Homo sapiens: one gene and its partners. The protein of the gene in region 2 interacts with the protein of the main gene of each other region in a pairwise test. Each region holds a gene or a part of one and is shown on either strand. Other genes may lie near its edges.

The links. The genes of interacting proteins can lie anywhere in the genome.
Region 1: the proteins of NEK6 (region 2) and FOXJ3 interact in binary tests that used the Homo sapiens proteins (3 or more experiments, as listed by UniProt).
Region 3: the proteins of NEK6 (region 2) and CFP interact in binary tests that used the Homo sapiens proteins (3 or more experiments, as listed by UniProt).

The regions. Positions count from the first base shown.
Region 1 is NC_000001.11:42,332,236-42,339,402, reverse strand, and holds the start of FOXJ3 (forkhead box protein J3), read left to right. Parts: upstream 1-4,167; 5' UTR 4,168-4,344; intron 4,345-4,447; exon of another isoform or gene 4,448-7,167.
Region 2 is NC_000009.12:124,260,949-124,268,046, forward strand, and holds part of NEK6 (serine/threonine-protein kinase Nek6), read left to right. Parts: intron 1-145; exon of another isoform or gene 146-220; intron 221-519; exon of another isoform or gene 520-635; intron 636-1,967; exon of another isoform or gene 1,968-1,997; coding exon of another isoform or gene 1,998-2,070; intron 2,071-2,076; exon of another isoform or gene 2,077-2,552; intron 2,553-7,098. UniProt on the Homo sapiens protein: Protein kinase which plays an important role in mitotic cell cycle progression. Required for chromosome segregation at metaphase-anaphase transition, robust mitotic spindle formation and cytokinesis.
Region 3 is NC_000023.11:47,626,931-47,634,103, forward strand, and holds the start of CFP (properdin precursor), read right to left. Parts: upstream 3,001-7,173; 5' UTR 2,915-3,000; coding exon 2,839-2,914; intron 2,745-2,838; coding exon 2,594-2,744; intron 1,348-2,593; coding exon 1,172-1,347; intron 712-1,171; coding exon 541-711; intron 403-540; coding exon 211-402; intron 17-210; coding exon 1-16. UniProt on the Homo sapiens protein: A positive regulator of the alternate pathway (AP) of complement. It binds to and stabilizes the C3- and C5-convertase enzyme complexes. Inhibits CFI-CFH mediated degradation of Complement C3 beta chain (C3b).

The DNA of each region.
Region 1 (7,167 bases), on a different chromosome or scaffold from region 2:
CAGTCAGTAGTGCTGAGACCTCTCAGATGGCCTACATATAGCCTTTTAAAAAACCTAATTCAAGAATTATAAAATATTAGATAAAGATACCCAGGAAATCTGGAAGGCTCTTCCCGGGCTAGGAATAATAGAAGGGGCTCTCTCGTGTTTTTCCCTCTCCCTCTTGCAAGTCTTGGCTCATTTTAAATTCATTTCTCATTTTCTGATTTCCTCTTACAATAAATACAGAGGGAGAAAAGGATCAGGTGAAGGCTCATTTATCTTAGCGTCTAGGTCATGTGAAGTGTTGAACACTCAGCTGTTGAAGCACTGCCAGTGTCCAATCAAGGTTTTTGTAGGGCTATTGCAGCCCAGCTCTGGGCTGTGTTCCTTTCAGAGAATTCAGAATTCAGATGAAGCTAGGACAAGATTGCAAACAATACAAAACAATAAAACCACTACTTCATTCCTCTGGGCAATCTGTGTCTTTTAAGGATCTGTCCCTTGAGCTGGATAATATCTCCTCTTTGAAGGCTATCCTGCTCTGCACCCTCCCTTCTAGTCCACTCCCGTCTCCCAAGACAGTCAACTACTATACTCTTTTCTGTGCTGACACTGGGACCTTATAAATAATAACAGCTGTCTTGGGGACCTTTATTTTTGGCAGCCTGTGCATGGTCTCTTTTGCTACATAGCTATGATTATTGTTCCCATATTATAGGCAGGGAAACAGAGGCTAAGAGAAACTAAATAACTGATGTAGGCACAAAGGAAGTAAGCTATGGAATATTAGACTTGAATCTAGGTCTGCCTTCTCAATCTAGGCTTTAAGCTTTTCCTCCTCACAATGTTCCAGAATTCCCCCTGCTGCTTTGGCCATCCTAGCTTTTTATTTATTTTTTATTTTTCTTAGAGTCAGGGTGTCACTTTGTTGCCCAGGTTGGTCTCAACCTCATGAGCTCAAGTGATCCTCCCACCTGGGCCTCCCAAAGTGCTGGGATTACAGGCGTTAGCCACCATGCCCGGCCTGCTTTATTCTTTCTTTCTTTCTTTTTTTCTTTTTTTTTTTTTTGAGGAGAGATACTCCTCCACTTTTTTAAATCTATATATTTAAGGTACACAACATGATGTTATGGGATAGTCAAAAAGTCACTATAGTGAAGCAAATTAACAGAGCCATCATCTCACACAGTTATCCATTTTTTTTGTTTATTGTGGCAAGAGAAGCTAAAATCTACTCATTTAGTATGAATCCCATATGTAATAAATTTTATTGCCCCTCCACCTTTTAATACCCTGGGACTCATACTTCTTTCCTTCCCAAAGGCTGCTGATCCCCACCTTCCCACCTCATTCTGGCAGCTATCCACCTCTGTTCTCTCTCCAGCCCTATCCCATATTAGCTCAGGATGAGCACTTCAGGGAAGTGCCTTAGAATTCCAGACAAGTGAGAGAAGCGGAGCTGCCCAACACTTGTAAGAGGTGGTGCTAAACAGGAGTTCAAGACAAGTCTGAGCAACATAGTGAGATCCCATTTCTATAAAGTTAAAAAATTTTTATAAAGGAAGAAAACCCCAAAAGCTCCAGACTTGGAGCTAAGTCTAGTTTCTCTCTCTTTTTTTTTTTTTAAAGACAGGGTCTCACTCTGTTACCCAGGCTGGAGTGCAGTGGCGCAGTCACAACTCACTGCAGCCTTGACCTCTTGGGCCCAATCCTCCCATCTCAGCCTCCCACATAGCTGGGACCAAGGATGCACACCACCCTGCCGGCTAATTTTTTTATTTTTGTAGAGACAGTCTCCTTATGTTGCCCAGGCTAGTCTTGAACTCTTGTGCTCACGCAATCTTCCGCCTCTGCCTAAGTGTTGGGAGACCATAGACAGACTGTACGTTATTTATTTTTTAGAGATGGGGGCTTGCTGTGTTGCCCGGGCTGCACTTGAACTCCTGGGCTCAAGTGATCCTATCCTCCTGCCTCAGCCTCCTTAATAACTGGGATTACAGTCAAGCGCCACTGTGCCCGGCTGAGACTGCATCTTATTTATCTTACTCATTGCTACTATCTAGTTCAAGCCATCATTCTGTACCTGGGTAATGGAGCCTCTGGCTTCCACCATTGTCCTCTTAGTTCTGCTCTTAGCACGGCGGCCAGAGTGATCTTTTGAAAGCACGAGTCAGATCCTATCACTCCTCTGTTCAAAGCCCAGCAGTGGTTCTGTTTCAGCCAAGATTCCTACAGCTCCCTACTTGAGACCCCTCTCTCTGATCTTATCTCCTCATTAGGCTCCCATTTGCTCACGGCTCCAACCGTCCTGGCCTTCTCATTATTTTTAACACTTCCCGAGGCTTTTGTCTCCAGGCCTTTCCACCAGCTAGCTGTTCCTTCTGCCTGGGACACTCTTCCCCAGACAACTGCATGGCTGACTCCCTCAGCTCTTTCAGGTCTCCGATTTAAAGTCATTTTATAAATGAGGCCCATGCTGACGGCTCTATTTAAAATTGCAGGCCAGGCGCGGTGGCTCAGGCCTGTAATGCCAGCACTTTGGGAGGCCGAAGAGCGCGGATCACTTTTGAGTTCGGGAGTTTGAGACCAGCCTGGCCAACATGGTGAAACCCCATCTCTACTAAAAATACAAAAATTAGCCGGGTGTGGTAGCGCGCGCCTGTAATCCCAGCTACTTAGGAGGCTGAGGCAGGAGAATCACTTGAACCCGGGAGTTGCAGTGAGCTGAGATCGCGCCACTGCACTCCAGCCTGGGCGGGAGAGCAGGATTCCCTCTTAAAAAAAAATTGCAAACCCCCTTCCTCCAGTTTTCCTCATACCCCTTACCCTGGTGTATTTTTTTTTCCCCATATGCCTTCTAACATATTACATAATTCTCTTACATTTATCATCTTTCTCCTTATATTAGAATGAAAGCTCCAACAGGGAAGGGTATTTGTTTTCTCTCTCTCTTCTGTTTACTGATACATCCCAAGCACTAAAATAGTGTCTGGCAACCTTAGTAGTGATTGGCAAATATTTGTTGAGTGAATGAGTACATGAATCTTCAGAATCTTGCTAGTCTTATAAAGAAAAGGAATATGTGAATACTTTGAATCTCCAGTGCCTAGAAATGCTTGACCAAACGGCAGGTGTTCAATGTTTACTGAAGGAATTGTGTGCTCAGATCTGCTGGAGGTCTTTATCTGAACCCTTTGAGACTATGTCAAAAAAGTACCCAGGGCCAATTCACTCATGCCTCTCCTTTTCCTCTCATCCAATCAGCCTAGTATTCATCTAACAAATATCTAAGTCTCCAAATATTGAGCCACCCATTGTGAGTTCAAAAGCGTGTTTGGCGCTGCAGGGGAATATGTGACTAACGCGAATGAAGCAACAGCAAATACTACACTGGAATGTAATTAAGTGTGAAATTATAGGGCAGATTATCAGTGCTAATAGTTTAGAGAAAGAATCAGTGAAGACTGACGTAGAAGTAAATTCCAAAGTTCACTCGTCGACCAAACTACCCTTCTAAACGCTCCACCTACTGATAGTAGTACCATAACCTGGGTAGCTACCTTGAGAATTAGAAGGGCCTTTAGAGGTCCAACTCCTTTAAGAAAGAAAGAAAGACCAGGCACGGGAAAGGCCTCCGCAGACATGAGTCTAGCACCTGGGACTCATGAAGTTCTGAAAAGAGGGGTGTCCTGAAGGTCCAAGGCGCCTTTGTTGGGGGTCCCGGAATCCGCGGTGTGCCAGGTCGGAAAAGGCGTCCGCTTTCCTGGAGAGGAGGCTAAGGTGCCGGGCGCTTCGGTGAGGTGGCGGATGTTGGGGGGCGGGGGAGGGCAGAAGGCACCATTCCTTCGGGGCATGGGGCCCCAGGTATCCGTGGGCAGGGTCCAAAGCCACCGATCCCTACTGTCCTCAACTGCGGGGTTGCCTCCGCCGCCTTTGCTCCCAGACGCCACTCCGAGGCACAAGGACCCCAAGTCGCTCGGAACTGCCGGCCGCTAGATGACACCGGCTGCGCCGATGCAGAGCCTCGGGAGTCTCAGGGCACTACTTGTCCCAGCGGAGGGATCCTGCGTGCGTCGAAGCGACCGTGACCGCGCAGGGACTTGACGCCGCTGACGCCGGGCCGGCGGCGCAGCGACGCCGCAGGAGGCGGTGGCGGCGAGGGCGGGCGGGGGATGCGGGTCGGGAAGTAGTTCCGGGTGCGCGGCCCCGGATGTTGGCTGCTCTTGCTGCCGCCGCCGCTCTCGGGGCTGCTCGGGGCCTCGACCGCTCGCAGTAGGCACCGTTGGGACCTTTCCCGGGGGGGCGGAGACGCACGGAGCGGCCGGGGGCTCGGCCGGGCCGTCCCGGCCTGCGCAGCCTGAGGTAAGTGCCCCCCGCCAGGGCGGCCGGGCCTGGGCGGCGGGCGAGGAGGCGGGGCTGTGGCATCTCCCGGGACGGAGGCAGGGGCTGTCCTCCGCGAGACGCCCTCTCTCTTCCAGCCGCAGCCGCGTTGCGGGGTGGGCGGCGGGTGGGGCAGGGGGCCTGGGCCCCGGCTGGGGCCTGGCGGACGCCGAGGGCTGGGTCCTTCCCTCCCCCGCGGCGCTTCTCAGCTGCTGCTGCCCCTCAGCTGGGAAGCAGCGGCTTCGCGTCTCCCGCCCCTCCCCCAGGCGGGGCACCGGGGAACCAGACGTGGATCCCGGGGGCGCCTAGTCCGAGGGCAGCGACCGTCTCCTTCCCTCCATGACCTGTCCCTTGGCCTGGGCTAGCCCCCGACCCCGGCACTCTGCGGCTTCTTCCCTTTAAGCTTGGGGGCGCTTTTCTGCCGGCAGGGCGGGCTGTACCTCACGCCTTGGAGTGGCCCTTTGGGGAGAGGAGGCCCATGCGAGGGTGCTTGCGTTCCCGCCCATCCTGTGTCTGTGTCCTTTGCTGGGATTAGGGCAAAGGCAGCCGTTCCATGCGGACGTGTTGCTGTCCTGTGTGTGTTGCATCCTGCCCACGTGGTAGAGTGTCTCCCGCCCCCCCTCCCAGCTCCATTTTTGCAGCTGGTGAGGAGGGAGGTTAACGGGATGGTTTTTCCTCTGTGATTTCCTCCGGGTGGCGTGGAAGGTGTTAGGGTCAGTTTGCTTTGCCGAGGCCGGCTGTTGGTTAGATGAAGAATCGAGAGTTGTACTCTGAAATTGAGGCCAGTAGGGGACATAACAGGGCTTAGTTTCATTAACATCTTTTTTCCTCTTCCATTAGCTGCTCTTATTCTTTTCTCTGTTGCTTAATTATAGAGAATAAGCGCTTGCTACCGATGCATTCAGGTGTATAGTTTTCATTTCTCTGTTTTACTTTTTGTGTGTCTGGTTAGCAAAGGTTTTACTATTCCGTGTTGGTGCATTCCACGTCTGTGTTGTCCCTGGTTGGATTCCTGAATGAGTTAGAGCCATTCACTCTAATTCCTGAAGGAGTTAGAGATTGGTGGGCACCTTTTTGGTCTTTTTCTGAGATTTATTTGTGTGTGTTTTCTTCCTTCTATTTTGTTTCCCAGTGAAAAAGCGTGATGTCATAGGAGCGTTATATGCATAGCTCTTTTTCTCACAAGGCAGCACTAGTTTCACCTAGTCACTTATTTTGTAGAAGCTCTTTTACTTCACTTTTCCTCTTACTCTGTTGAGTACCCATTGCACACTCTTTTTTTGAAACTGGTTTGAAACATGGTTTGAGTAGTTTTTTTCTTAATGTCTCTTCCAGATTAGGGTTTCCATCTTCTGTTTTGCTGTTTTGAGACCACAGATTGTTCCCGCAATAACAGTGAGAGAAGCCTATTCCTCCTGGTCCCTAGCAAATATTTATAGAAAAGCAGTAACTCCTCTCTTTTTCTGAGTGGTATATATTATATAGACGTGATTAAGTTTTTTAGTTTCTTAGATAAATAGGAGGATTTCTCTTTTTGCTTTTGTGTCTCAGAATTGAGGTGAATCTTCTTGGTTTTGTGCTGCCGAGGACAAAACTGGGAAGTTTCTCATGCTTTCATTAGATTTTTTTTGGATGAGGCTAGAACGTGTTTATTTTGGCTCTTTTTTGTTCATTAGTTTGGGTAAAATAAAAAAACTTAATGTTTCAAAGTCACTTACTAGATTCCAAAGTGGCCTGCATTCTCACTTTTTCACATTGTACATTCTTTGAGTATATTTTTGACATTTTTTTCCTTTTATCTGGTACAGTTCGTATATTCCCTTTCCTTCTATGTAGAATGAAAATATTTAAATATAGATTTTAGATTATATTTTTTCATTATGCTAAGTATGGGTGGGGCAGTGGAAAATGGAGAATGTTGTTCTGATACATACTGAGGCTTTTTGTTTTTTTTTGGTAAGTCAGCATTTGTGTACTTCTGTAAAGTACCGAGTTATCTATGTGTGAAGTCTGTATGAAGAGACGAATAAGATACGTGGTCTCTTGGAAAGCTTCAACTTATATCGAAAGAACAGAGTTTCTTTTTCTGTTCGGGAAACATGTACATCATTCAGAATTATCAAACTGCATCAAACTTCTCCTTGGGATAACAGTACAACCAAGGTCAAAAGTGTAAGGGACATTTGAGAAAGATACAAATTTCCAAAGGGAAAGAGGTGTATTTCAGGAGAGTGAAGGGGCCTGTGCAAAGCGAGAGAAGTGGCAATGTACAAATGATATCAAGGAGCTTGACTGTCAGATCATCTGTGTTGGTGAATAATAATAAATGAGTTTAGGATTGGTGAGGGGGTATTGATGGAGGATCTTTCAAGGATAGAGGGTTTAGTTTGATAGGGTACCACAATGGGTTCTAAAGAATGAGAGTAAGATGATGCATCTTGTTCCTGAGGAAGGTTTTTGTTTCAGCTGAGTGTCCTGGGAGTGGAGAGACTGATTAGAGTGCTTATGGAGAATTTTAGGAATAAGCTGATGAGGGTCTGATATAAGATAGTGGTTGTAGGAATAAAATAATAGCTAACATTTACTTACTGTATGACAGGTATTCTAAGCGCCTACGTTTGTTTAATTCATTAAATCTTCATAATAAGGTATTAAAATCAGAAGGGACTTTGGGCAAGTTGCTTAACCTTATGCATGTAATTATTCCCATATACAATGAACGGTTAGATGAAAGGTAGATTTTGCACTGACCAGGGATATAGATGCTAGTAAAACACATCAGTAGATGTGTGTTGGGAGGGTAGT
Region 2 (7,098 bases):
GGCTGGATGCCTGGCCTGTGCTGAGGTTCAGTGTCGTTTTCCTGATCTTACAGAGAGGGAGGTTAAGTAACTTGGGCAGGGTCATAAACCCACAAATGGCAGAGTCGGGATTCGAACCCATGTCTCTGATTCCAGAGTTCCTCACCTTAAACCACATCTGGCTGCCTTTGTCGTGCTTTGCTCCTGTTGCATGCTGCAAAGCCAAGTAGGTTAAGACAGGCTAGGTTCCTGCAGGGCTGGGTTGCCCGAGACCTGGGAGAGGTCTTCCAGAAGGCACTGCTGGCCTTCCTCGCCCAGGGCCAGAGCTACTGGAGAGAAAGGGCTGCTGTTCACATTTTTTCTTTTCTTTAAGTGCCCCAGATACTTTTCATAAGGGAAGTGTCAAAACAATTGTCAAAAGGAGAAGAATATTTCCTTCCTCTTCTCAGGCTAGACCAAGCAAGGGAGTTGGAGGGTGGAGAGTGGAGGGACCTGGTGAATCATCCAAGATTAAATACGGGCAGGCACTGCCAGGCTTGTGTGGAGATGAGGCTGGGACACTGTTCGCAGGAAGAGTCCGGTGTTCTGGCCCCCTGATGTCACCTTCACGGGCCTGACTCACAGTCCTAAATATCTGACAGCGAGATCGCTTGTAGGTAGGCTTCTTGTCACTTGTCATTTAAGTCCCCTGCCTGCCTTTTTTCCCTGCTCATTTCCATTTCGATCACGGCTTCTACTACATGTGCTTGAAATGAATGTTGTGTGTGAGGACCTGTGTGGTTTGGGCCATGTTGTGCCCCCCTGCCAGTGTCCTTCGGTGTTGAAAGGAAAAGGTATTTCTCTCCCTTCCATGTATGTTCTGCAAATTGACGAACATTTGCAAATTGCTTTGAGATGCGTTAATTTAAGGTGTGAAATAATAGATCTTGTGCGAAGGCTCAGCCACATTTCTGGCATTGATGGATTTTTCTCCCGTCTGGCCTGTGATTTGGGGAGGTAAAAATAGTCCTTTTTTCCACATTTTTATCTTTTTTTTTTTTTGCTGACATCATTCTTAGGAAGTGGTGTGCACATGCCGTGGAACTTTACATGGAACATGGAGCTCTGGGGAGCAGGAGTGCTCTTGGAGTGAGGGGTGGTCTGCGGTGGCCCAGGCACCCCCTGGCTGTCCGTGAAATGGCTTTGAAATGAGCAGGCACTGTTGAGGGCCTCAGTGGCTTTTTGGTATTTGGCTGTCTTTTCACTTATGACTCTTGGGTAATGGCAAGATAACTTTTGGGGAAAATGTTAGTTTAAAAAGAAAAAAAATCAGGCCAGCACTTTCACTCATTCCTGTCTGAGCTGGTCCCTTCCTTTGGCCAAAGCTGAACTAAACCAATGGCCTTCTCAGACTCGACTTCCAGACAGAGGAGCCGACATTGGGGCAAATCAGTTGGTGGTGTAATTTCCTGTGATGTTAACTTTGGGAACTTGAACTTGGAGTGGGAGCTAGCATTTTGACATGTGTCCCTCTAACAGGACTTGCTTGTGTGGAAACAGACCCCCACATACATGGCTGCGCCATTGTCTCCAATTCTGGATTTTTCCACAGATGACTTCTCGGGTGATCTGGTGGTAAAGGCACAGGTCTTCTAGCCAGGCCTTCTTGGCCTCCAGCAAGGGCAGGATCACAGCACCCCACCAGACCTGACTGGCCACCACCGCTGTAGCTGTGGCTGGGCGAGTGGGGGGGCCATGGGAATTGAAAGATGGGGTGGCCGAGATCTGAAATGCATTCAGTTGCAGTGGCCTGGATCTGCACGGAGCCGTTCTTTCTTTCTCTTAGACATCTGCATGGTGGTGACCTCATAGAATTCTAAGAAAAAAGGGGCTTTATGTAGGAATTCCATAGAGTGTGAAGGAATTTGGACAGGGGAAGGGGGAGGGAAGTTGCCATTCAGAGCCTGCAGTGCCTGCATTTTCCCCGAATTGTTTAACCCTCATGCTTCAGAATTAGGCTGAGGCTTGCGGGGTGGGTCATGTTGACCTGGGTGAACAGAGATCCCTTTAAGAAGAACTTCTCCATGTTCCAGAGGCGCGTTCTTACTGCAGGTGAGTGGCAGTATGGGAATTAGTCCACAGGCCCCTTCTCGAATGCCTGCCCTCTCTTGTTCCTTGTCCTCAACGTCTTTGAAACTTGGGCTTGTTGGGAAGACACCTGCAAAAGGATGGATGCACATGACCTTCAGCTCTAATGAATCAAGCTGCTGATGAGGAATTCACTGGGCTCCCAATCCAGAGAGCTTCGCACACACCCACTGGGGTTGAGACGAGCACTGGGTTTATTTATTGTGGACTTTTGGAGTCTGAAGGACTCTTGCCACCCATCTGTTTCACGGAACAGAACCTGAGGCTCAGAGGGAGCAAGGCGCTCCCCCACAGCCGCATTGAGAGCCTGAGCCTGGGCACCCGATGGAGTGAATGAGGCTGGAGTCCCAGACCTGCCTCTCATGAGCACGTCGCCCACTGAGCCTCAGCGTCATCATCTGGAAAACAGGGATAATATTATGACCTCAGAAGCTTCGGGGGAGGAAGTAAGTGAAATAATGCATTTCAGATGCTCAGCGCCTTTTAAGTGCTTGATGCTCATTCCCCAAGATTACATGAGAGACATGGAAAATCTTTAATGACCAAGGACCCACCCAGGGTCACTCAGCCGGGACCCTTGGTCCGTGGCCCAGAGTGTCTCCAGTGCCCCTGCATTGAGGCCCTAAACAAGGCCAGAAGCAGGTGCCGGGGACCCCTCTGGATTCCACCAGAGCACCTTCCTAGGATCATGGCTCCCAAAACGGAAGGGAAGGAGACAGCGCAGTTTGCAAAGAGGCAGGATTTAAGCACCAGGGTGGCCCTGTGGCGCCTCAGGAAAATGTTTGCCTGTCAGTATCTGCTCTCGTTCCCACCTGTCCCCACAAAGCGAGGCCATAAGTCCTCGGCGTGGCATTGGAGGGTCTCTGAAGGCCCTGAGAGCTGTGTCAGCCACGGTGTGTTATGAAGCAAGGCAGATGTTTTGTTAATTATTTACACAGCGTCGGCCCCGCAGAGGACTGCGCTGACAGGAGCGGCTGTCACAGGCCTGGCCGTGGGGCAGAAGTGAGCAGCCGTCTTCCCCTGGCAGTCCTCCTGAAAAGGTCTGCATGGCAAGGCCTGAGGGAGTCCTGCACATTTTATGCCCCCGCCCCCCAAAGCCATTTGGGTTTCCCTTAAACTGGCTTGTTTTCCTGAGCCGGTGGAGAGATCCTTGTCCTCCGGAAGTGGCTATCGCTCTGGGGCGGCTTCTCTGCCAGCTCGTCACACCCTAGACCCAGCTGTAGTCTGTGTGGTGGGAGAGGGTGTCACCAGGCTCTGGAGGTCCACTCCTCTGTAGTCACCTCATGCAAGGAGGGCTTCACAGGGGCCCAGCCTCTACTCCCTCATCCGGAAAACGGGCCAGTAACACCAGGCACCAGCCCCGTGATCCTCAGGCACCCTTGGGGGTGATCTGCCTTAGAAATTCAACTTTAGGATTAGAATTCTGCTAAGAGGTACCATGTGACAAAAAAGGTAGTGTAAAAATCACAAAGACCAGGACAGGCTCATGCCTATAATCCCAGCACTTTGAGAGGCCGAGGCGGGCAGATCACTTGAGGTCAGGAGTTTGAGACCAGCCCAGCCAACATGGCAAAACCCCATCGCTACTAAAAATACGAAAAATTAGCTGGGCGTGGTGGTGGACACCTTTAATCCCAGCTACTCGGGAGCCTGAGGAGCCTGAGGCGTGAGAATCACTTGAACCTGGGAGACAGAGGCTGCAGTGAGCTGAGATTGTGCCACTGCACTCCAGCCTAGGCAACAGAGCGAGACTCTGTATCAAAAAAAAAAAAAAAAAAAAAAAAAGAGTTCTGCAAAGAATGGCACCTGGCATCAGAGCTTTCCCTGAAAGGCCACTAAGGATGAGGAACGTGAGCTCCGGGGAGGCGAAGGGGGCAAAGCCACCTGCCTGTTGCCTGTTTTACATAAGGAGGTTTTGCATAGGAGTCATTTTAAGATACATGAAGTAGCCAGAATAGATAAATCCACATAGACCTAAAGCAGATTGGTGGTTTCCAGGGCCTTTGGGGAGGGGAGACTGGGGAGCGACTGATTAAGGGACATGGGTTTTTATTGGGGTGACGCAGACGTTTTGGAACCGGATGAAGGTGGTGGTTGCACAACATTGTGATTGTAATACATCCCATCCAGCGGTTTGCTTTAAAGTGGTTAAATATATCTGAGAAAAATGTTAAACATAAAAGTTTTGGCCAGGCACGGTGGCTCACGCCTGTAATCCCAGCACTTTGGGAGGCCGAGGCAGGCGGATCACGAGCTCAGGAGTTTGAGACCAGCCTGACCAATATGGTGAAACCCCATCTCTACTAAAAATACAAAAATTAGCTGGGCGTGGTGGCGTGTGCCTGTAATCCCAGCTACTCAGGAGGCTGAGGCAGGAGAATCACTTGAACCCAGGAGGCGGAGGTTGCAGTGAGCCGAGATGGCGCCACTGCACTCCAGCTTGGGCAATAGAGTGAGACTCCGTCTCAAAAAAAAAAAGACAAGTTTGTCTTGCTTTAAAAAAAAAAATACCTCTCCTTTTACAGATGGCGACACTGAGGCCCAGAGAGACATCATGACCAGCCTCAGGTCCCACATGCAGCCTGCTGCTCTGTAGCCTAAATCAGATCACTGTCCCAGCTTTCAGGTCAAGGCTCTGGTTGTGACACCTGGGCCTGGACTGCGGGTGAAAAGTTTTGATGCAAAAACACAGACCGTCCATTGTCCTATGGGCTAAGTGGACTCCCTTCTGCTAACCAGAGATGCTTGTGCTGGCTGGTGTGTGGCACGTTATCTCATTCTTTCATGACGTATGTCCGGATGGAAGTCCTGGGTCAGGCATTGTGCTGGGAGCCCACACGAAGACCCTCTAATGGCCCCACCCATTGGCCTCTCACCACCTGGTGGGGACAGAGGCTGTCACAACCCCTTCTTAGGTGCTCTTGATCAATTTGCAGGTGGCATTTTTTGGGATGTAGTCTCTGGGGAAGTAGGAGAGCTTCCGGCAGTGAGGGGTGTTTGAACCCACCTGGAGGGAGACGTGGGGTTTGCCAGAGGGCTGAGAGGGCTGGGGTGAAGGGCAGGTAGACCCCAAGGTGGAGAGGCAGGTGGGGCCGGTGGGTGAGAGGTGGGGCTGTGGAACTTCCTCCTGCTTCTTTGGCCTTTGCTCCTGTCGGTAGATGGCCTTACCAGGCACTTACTGTGGGCCATGTTCTAATCTAACCCTTAACCTGAGGGAACTCACTTCATCCTCCCAGTGATGCCGTGATGTGGGTATCGTTCTGCCCATTTTATAGATGAGGAAACAGAGACCCAGAGAGTCCAGGATCTGTGGTGCTTGACGAGCATCAGCCTGAGTGCTGTGAGGACACCCACAGCATGGGGGTCTGAGCTGAAAATTGGAGGACAGAGGCTGCCCTCCGGAAGTGACCAGGATGTGCCCTCAGGAAGTGACCAGCTGCCCAGCTCAGGACCTGTGTGAGGGCCCCCAGGCAGCTGGAAGGAACAGTGTGCACCCAGGTACCATGCCAGGGCCCCTGAGCATCCGTCTTGTCATCGCATAGTTGTAACCTGCCTCACAGACTGAACATGCACTCTAGAAGGGGATGGGACTTGGTCTGTGGACCACAACAGTGTTCTCCATGGCCAGCATTGTGCCTGACACATAGGAGGAGCTCAATTAATATTTGTTGAGTGAATGGGAAGTTTTAAGTAGGCACGCGGCCGGATCCTTGGAGAATGTTTATATGGAGTGAACGAATCTGTTAGCAAACGTTCCTCACTCCCCTCAGTGGGCTGTGCAGGGCTGTATTGAGCTGAGCTGGCCCTTCCCTGGGAGAAGAGGTTTCTTAGAGAAATGCTCATCCTCGAATTATTCCAATGAGGAGGAACCTAAGCCCAGAAGGGCTCTACCTCCCAGAGTTACAGGCTCTCCTTCCTATGCCCCTTCCCTGCCGAGGCAGCTCCCACATGTCTGCATAGGAGGGCTTTGGGTTGGAATGGGTCAGTGCTGTGTCTTAAAGCTGCATTTTCTACCAAGCACACACTTTGTTTAGAGGGCATATCTTTTGGGGTTGCTTTGAGGAAAGGCTAACCAAGCCACCTCTGAGCACAGACATGACTTTTTGGCAAATGAGCAGGACCCCAGATTACACCCCATCTTAGAAAGTAGGAAACCCAGCATTGAAAGAGGAAAGATTCTGCAGCTGATGTGGCCTTGGCGGGCCACCAGCGTGGGTGCCCAGATGGCAGGATCACTGGGCACCACATGGCACACAGAAGAGAGCAAAGGAGAGGGAGTCCGCCCCTGGGCTTGGCAGGTCCGGTCGAGTCCGCCTGGATTCAGTTACAACAGGACCTCGAGTGGGCACGGCGTGCCGGACTGAGTCAGTGTGTGTACATTTCCTTTGTTCGTCTCCTCCGGGAATGTAGTGGCCTTTTGTGTGTGTTTTAAATGCCAGCCTCCTTACCTAACCCAAGAGGAAATGAGGACTGGGTTTTTGTCTGTGCAGACGCTGGGACAAGTGTGGGAGCCGCCTGCTCTTGGAGCCAGCCTAGTGGTGACAGCGTGGCATTTGGAAAACATTCTGTGGTTTTCTCCAAGGGGTGATGGGCACACCAGGTGCTGGGCCGCCCCTGAGCTGGCCACTGGGACCCTGAAATGAGGAAGCCCTGTGACCAGGTTTCATGATGCCATTCAGCAAGGGACGGCTGAGCACCACATGCCTTCTTGGCCCCTGGGGAAACACACAGGAATCAGATGAGGTCCCTGCCCCGTCTTCCTGGGGAAACATGCAGAGAAAATACTTGTACTCTGAGCTAACACCTTTCACTCGCACAGACCTTTATGGTGTTCTGTGTCTTCAGACATTGATCACCTGTAGGTGAGACACATCATGGCCCCACTTTCCAAACTCCCAAACGGGCTGTGATCTGTAGAAGTATTTAGTGCCATTCAGGGACAGGAGAGATGGTTTGGAAGATGCTGTCTGCTGTGCGAAGTCTCTGGATGCT
Region 3 (7,173 bases), on a different chromosome or scaffold from region 2:
CCCCAGCCCCCAGCCACTGTTGGAGGAGGAAAGGGAGTGAGGAGAAAGGCCTCCTCAATCCTTCCTCTCAGCCCCTAGACCCTTGAAGCAGACTGTCCCCAAATGAAGGGCTGCATGGTCACATGGCCTAGGAACTCTAGAAATGGCAGAGCATCTCTGCCCTCAATCAAGAGCCCCACCAGCAACATCAGCAGCCTCATCCTGGTGTACCTGGGCAGGGTGGCAGGCCGGTGCACCTCCGCTGCTCGTAGGCTAGCCCCGGGCAGGGCTTCCCAGGAGGTTTCTGGGAGGGCTCAGGTGCAGAACACTTGCGGCTTCGTGTCTCCTTAGGTTCGTGGGGTCCACCGTGGCAGGAGGCTGAGCAGGGGGTCCAGGGGCCCCAGGTGGCCCAGGCCCCGTGTGCTGTGGTGGGGTGGGAGGTGGAGGGATGCAGGTGTGGTCATGCATGCTAAAGTCCTCTCAGCCTGGCAGTTCCCTGCTGTAACCCCGCAGACCCACGCTGGGTGCACCCATCAGCATCCTGTGGCTTCCCTCACTCACTGGGGCAGACCTGCTGGGTGTCACAGGCCTCTGATTCCTGTGCCTGTCCTGGGCAGTGGCCCCCACACTTGGGAGCAGGGTGATTACAGGCTCGCCTGCGGGTCCGGGTCCCTTTGGAGCAGGTGACAGAGCAAGGCTCCCAGGGCCCCCAGCCAGACCAGCCGCCCATCTCTGTGGGAGAGAAGAGAGGGTAATGGGATGGAGGTGGGGTGTCATTCAGGGCTCTTTGCTTCCTTGAGTGCCCCACATGAGCTAATCCTGTCCTTATATCCTCTGCCACCATTCTGGGCCCACCATCCCCGCTCACCGGGCCTGCCGCAGCAACCTTCACATGGGTGCCTCCGCTTCCCCTCTCACCCTCACCGTGCACAGTCTGTTCTCCTCCCAACCCCAGTCAGATCACGTTCCTCCTCTGCCCACAGTCCAAATTACTCAGATGAAAAGCCAACGTCCTCTCTGTGGCCCCCAGGCAATGGACCCTCCTCACCTCTCTGACCTCACCTCCCACCACTCTCCTCCTTAGGTCCTTACAAACACTGGGGACGGGCCCACTCTGAGGACCTCTGTACCGATCGTTCCCACCAGTGCTGGGTGACAGGGAGTGCTTGCCCGCCTTGCTCATCCTCCTCACCAGGACAGCACTGCTGGTCCTCACAGGCCTGGAGCTGCCACTCCAGGGTCCCAGGTGCCACCTTTCCAGAGCACTGCCCATTCCAGCCCACACAGCGCCGGTACCGCAGCTGGGAGCCCTCAGAGCACGTCACCGAACAGGGGGCCCATGTGGACCACAGGGACCATCGTGGGGACCTGTGGAGAAGAGCACACACATCCCATCCTGGCATGAGCTAACAAGAATGGCATGTGGGACTCCAGAGTGTGGGCAGACACGAAGGGTTGCTAGGCAAGTGCGTGTGCGATGGATTGATAAGTCCTTACCTTTTAGGGATATTGGGATACTGATGGGAAGCAGTGGATATACAATAAGTGCTTGATAATGTCATTTACCTTCACAATCAGGCATCTGGAGTTACCATTGGAAGGCTGCATGGCCAACACCAGGTCCGCAGTAAGCAAAGGTAAGGACTAGAAACCAAGGGCTGCTGTCAGAAACCCACCAGATCACCACACTACACGGTAGTAGGTAAATAGAAAGTGCTTAATAAACCTGAGCCATCATCCCTATGACCTCAGAGGCCTCCTCAGAAATAACCCCAGATCTATCCCCAACCCACTGCATAGCCCTAGGTATGCTGTTCATGCCAAATAGATGTGATGAACTGTTGACATGACTTGGGGCCCAGAGCTGCCCTCAAAAATCCCCAAGCTCCCCATGCCCACGGTGTATCTGGGATATATAGTAAACAAGTAGAAAACAGGTCTGGCATACGGTAAGGGCTCAATCCATGCAAGCTGGAAATCATGATCAGGAGACTAGAGCTACCCTCAGAAATCCTCAAGCTCATCTCCCAACCCTGCCATGCAGCTGGTATACAGGGAGTGCTCAATGAATGTGAAGTGTCATCATAATTAGGGGCCTAGAGCTGCCCTTTGAATTCCCCAAACTTTCCCGCCCCCACAGTGTGTCCATATACAGTAAGCACTCAATAAACATGAGCTGTCATCAAAATTAGGGAAATACCAAGCTGCACCCCACCTGCAATGCTTCCAGTGTGCAGGAGGTGCTCAATATGTGTGAGCTATGTCAGTGGTTCTCAATCAGGGGTGATTTTGACCCCCAGGGGACATTTGGCAATGTCTGCTGACATGTTTGGTTGTCACAGCTGGTGGGGAGAATTGCTACTGGCATCTAGTGGAAGGCTAGGGGTGTTACAAAACATCCCACAATACACAGGTAAGCAATCCCCTCCCCCAGCCAAGAATTTCCAGCCCCAAATGTCAATAGTAACAAGGTTGAGAAACCCTGAGGTATGGTCACGATCAGGGCCTCAGGGCCACCCTTGGAAGTCCCAGAGAAAGAAAGTGCCCAGTTTTGGGTGACCCCCACAGACAGTCCTTCCCTCCCCCCCATCCCCCACCCCAGGCTCCCCCTAACCTGCAAGGCTGACAGAGCCCACCACTACGTTTCTGGTAGGCAAAGGCAGTGTTGAGACAGCAGTCTTCCACGCTGACACCACCCCCCAGGAGGCCCTTGCACTTGCCGGAGGATTCTTCATACTGGGTGAAGCAGAGCACGGGGTCTGAGCCTGTAACAGGGCCAGGGGATGGGTGGGTGGGGCTCGGTCAGGGATGTGGTGGGCCTGGACACCCCTGGGGCCAGCTGGGCCCTCACCCCCTCACCTGTGGCTGGCAGGGTGAGCAGCAGGAGCAGCGGCGGCAGCAACAATCGAGGGGCCTGCGCTCCCTCTGTGATCATGTTGAGTACTGCCCCCTGCACCTCTACCAGAGAGGAGGTCCCGCTTTATCTGGGTTGATAGGCTCCTGGAATCAGCAGGGAAAGAGGAACCTAGAGGCAGGAGGAACTGGGAGGGCATCCTGCTTTGACCCCACCCTGTCCCCTCTGCCTCCTTCTCTACTCTCCCCTCCCCATTTCCTGTCTTACTCTTGGTCTTGTTCTGTTTGTTACTATATCCCCAGCACCTCGCGCTCCTCCCAGCAACCTCACAGTGTTCAATAGAAGCTCCTAGGACAAATTCTCACCCAGAGGAAATGGAGCATAGGAGCGTGCAGCAACTTCCTAGCCGTGTGACCTTGGGTGAGTCACTTAACACCCCTGAGCCTCAGTTTCCCTATGTGGAAAATGCATAATCTCTAACATAATGACGGGGTCAACCTCGTGGGGGTGTTGAACCAGGGTGAAGTGAGTGTGCGGTGCTCAGTATGTTCCTGCTCGTGGGGGTGGAGGGAGCATCGAGTCAGTTGCTCCACCTTCCACCCTCCCTTAACCTCGGCCCTCCTTTCCTGAGAGGTTCCCTGTGGTCAGCTTGTGGTCGGGGAGGTCAGCACAAGGGAAGTGAGAAAGGGAAGTGGCAGGAGCCTGGGGAGGGATTCAGGAGGGGAATGGGGTCTATCCATTGTTCCATGGGCCCAGCTGGGGACAACACCAGGGTCTGGGGTGATTAGGAGGGAATAAGCTGGGCCATATTCCATCAGAGAACCCTCAGGCAGATAACACCCCCCTTCTGGAGCCTGTTTCCCCTCTGTAAAATGTGCTCACAGACAGCACCTACAACATAGGTAGGGTGTGTTGCAAAGATTGCGAGTTAAGCTTTTGTTTGTTTTGTCGAGATGGAGTCTCACTCCGTCGCCCAGGCTGGCGTGCAGTGTCACGATCTCGGCTCACTGCAACCTCTGCCTCCCGATTTCAACCAATTCTCCTGCCTCAGCCTCCTGAGTAGCTGGGATTACAGCCGTGTACCACCATGTCCAGCTAATTTTTGTATTTTTAGTGGAGACAGGGTTTCACCATGTTGGCCAGGCTGGTCTCGAACTCCTGACCTCAGGTTATCCACCTGCCTTGGCCTCCCAAAGTGCTAGGATTACAGGCGTGAGTCACCGTGCCCGGCCAGGAGTTAAGCTTTTGGAAAGTCTTTAGAACAGTGCCTGGCATATAGTAGGTGCTCTGTGTTTGATAAATTTATTCAACATTTATTGAGCACCTACTGGATGCCAGATGCGGTTCTTAGCATTAGAGCAGAGAATAGGACAGACAAAAATCCTGGCCCTCGAGAAGATGGATAACAAATGTTGCCCCTCCTCACAGAGGCCTTCCCCATACCCTTGTCTGGCATCCCTGTCACTCTCTAGCCCAGTAGCTTCCAAACCTGTTTTTTTGTTTGTTTTGTTTTAAAGAGACAGAGTCTTGCTGTCACCTGGGCTGGAGTGCAGTGGTCTGATCATAGCTCATTGCAGCCTCAAACTCCTGGGCTCAAGTGATTTTCCCACCTTAGCGTCCCCAAGTAGCTGGGACTACAGGCACACACCACCACACAACTAATGTTTTTATTTTCTGTATAGATGGGGTCTCGTTGTGTTGCCCAGGCTGGTCTCAAACTCCTGGCTTCAATATTTTCTCCCAACCTCAGCCTCCCAAAGTGCTGGGATTACAGGCATGAGCCATCACACCAGCCCTTCTTTTTTTTTTATTTTTTTATTTTTTTTTTATAAACCCTAATGAAACTCCAGGGCCCACTTTAAAATTTTTATTTTGCTTTTAATTAACAAAAAGAAGCACAAGAAAGATAGGAAGGCAATGCCTAATTTCCTCTGCTCTCAGGGAGGCAGAGGAATTCTGCAAATTCAAATGTAATAATTTGGTCAGCTGTTAAAACAGAAGTTCTTCAGGAACACTTGTTTTATGGGCAGTAAAGTATGTGTTAATATCTGTATCCATTACAGACATACTCTGTTCTCTGATAACATAAGGCTATCCTTGAAAATGTGCTTTGAACAAAGGAGTCTTATTAAGATTCTACGACTTCAAGACAATCATTGCTGTGTTATCCTGTGAAAACACTCTCCAAGAGACCTGAAACTGGCCAGGCATGGTGGCTCACGCCTGTAATCCCAACACTTTGGGAGATTGAGGCAGGTGGATCACCTGACGTCAGGAGTTCGAGACCAGCCTGGTCAACATGGTGAAACGCCGTCTCTACTAAAAATACAAAAATTAGCCAGGCGTGGTGGCGGATGCCTGTAATCCCAGCTACTTGGGAGGCTGAGGCAGGAGAATCGCTTGAACTCGGGAGGCAGAGGCTCTAGTGAGCTGAGATCGTGCCACTGCACTCCAGCCTGGGCGACAGAGTGAGACTCTGTCCCAAAAAAAAAAAAAAAAAAAAAGAAAGAAACCTGAAATTCTGGCTGGCTTCTTTATTTAACCACCTGTTGCCCTGGTAATAATATTAACAATATTTCCTTTGTTTCTAAACTGTATAAATACTCATAGGATTCCCTGTGGAAGAGGACTGTCAGCACTCTATCTTTTCCCACACGTTTAGGCAATAAAATGACTGCAGATTCCTTAAACAAAGAGTGAGAGTCTTGTCTTATTTAATTATTACATCCCTACCTGCTACTATGTATTTGCCTGCTTCTTGTTATTCTCACTCCCTAAATATCAGTTCCACAAGGGCAGGGATTTTTGTCTGGCTTGTTAACTGCTGGGTCTGCAGGGCATTAGATAGGCACCAGGAAACAGTGGATGCTCAATAAACATCTGCTAAATGAATCAATCAATGAAATAAACAAAACTTTAGAGATTACGATAAAATGCCAGAAGGACAGTCTGAGTTAGAGGTAAAAATGTGGGCATCCCATGGAGGATAAGTAGTATTTCAAGTGTGAAGACCTGGATAAGATGACCTAGAGAGGATGCGTGAGAAGAGAGAAGGGAATCCCAGGGCTTTGCCCTGGGGAACCCCAGCATTTCAAGTTTTAGAGAAGTAGGAGAAGCCAGCCCAGCGGACTGAGCAGGAGGGGCCTGTGGAGGAACAGGAAAAACAGAAGAGGGTTTTTCTCCAGGGCCTGGAACATTCGAGGGTCTGCAGGGCATTAGACCTCTCACACAGTCTCATTTGGTCTGTTATTTTCTCTCTCTCTCTTTTTTTTTTTAAACCTATCTACACAGTTATGTTTTTCTTTTCTTTCTTTTCTTTTCGAGACAGGGTCTGGTTCTGTTACCCAGGCTGGAGTGCAGTGGCGTGATCGCAGACTACAGCCTCAACCTCCTGGGCTCAAACCATCCTCCCACCTCAGCCTCCCGAGTAACTGGGACTACAGGCACACGCCACACCTGGCTAATTTTTTAAACTATTTGGAGAGACAGGGTTTTGCCACATTGCCCAGGCTGGTCTCAAACTCAAACTCCTGGGCTGAAGCGATCCTCCCAACTCAGTGTCCTCAGTAGCTGGGACTACAGGCATGCACCACTATACCTGGGTAATTTTGTTTTTTGTTTTGGTAGCGGCAGGGTCCTTCTATGTTGCCCAGGTTGGTCTCAAACTCAAAATCCTGGCCTCAAGTAGTCCTCCCACATCAGCCTCCCATGTAGCTGGGATTACAGGTGCACAACACTACGTTATGCTAATTTTTTAAATTTTTAGTAGTGACGGGGTCTCACCATGTGGCCCAGGCTGGTCTCAAGCTCCTGGCCTCAAGTGATCCTCCCACCTTGGCCTCCCAAAGTGCTGGGATTACAAGCATGAGCCACCGCACCCAGTCCGGATTTACAGCCTCTACTATATTCTCTTAATCACACAGCCTCTCAGACATTCTGTCACTCATAGTCATTTTCTGTGTCATGGATTCCAGCCTTACTACAGTCTCCTAACAGTTTCACACACACAATCATGTTTAACAGCCTGTCTCATTCAGTCAATATTGCCAATAGTTTCTCTCACCAGTCAGTTCCTTACATACACGTGCAGTCACACAATCTCATGAAACGTTTAGGCACTCATTTGGCCTGTTACTTTCTCACATACACAAATAGTCACTGATTTATAGTCACCACTAACTAGTCTCTCATGAAGTTTCCCACACATGCACAAAAATCACCTCTCCTACCCCTTTCTCACTCAAGCCACTTTTTCACACACCCACGATCCCTGATTACAGCCTCTCCCACAAAGACATTCACACGCATACACAATCACACAGTATCTCAGACACTGTCGT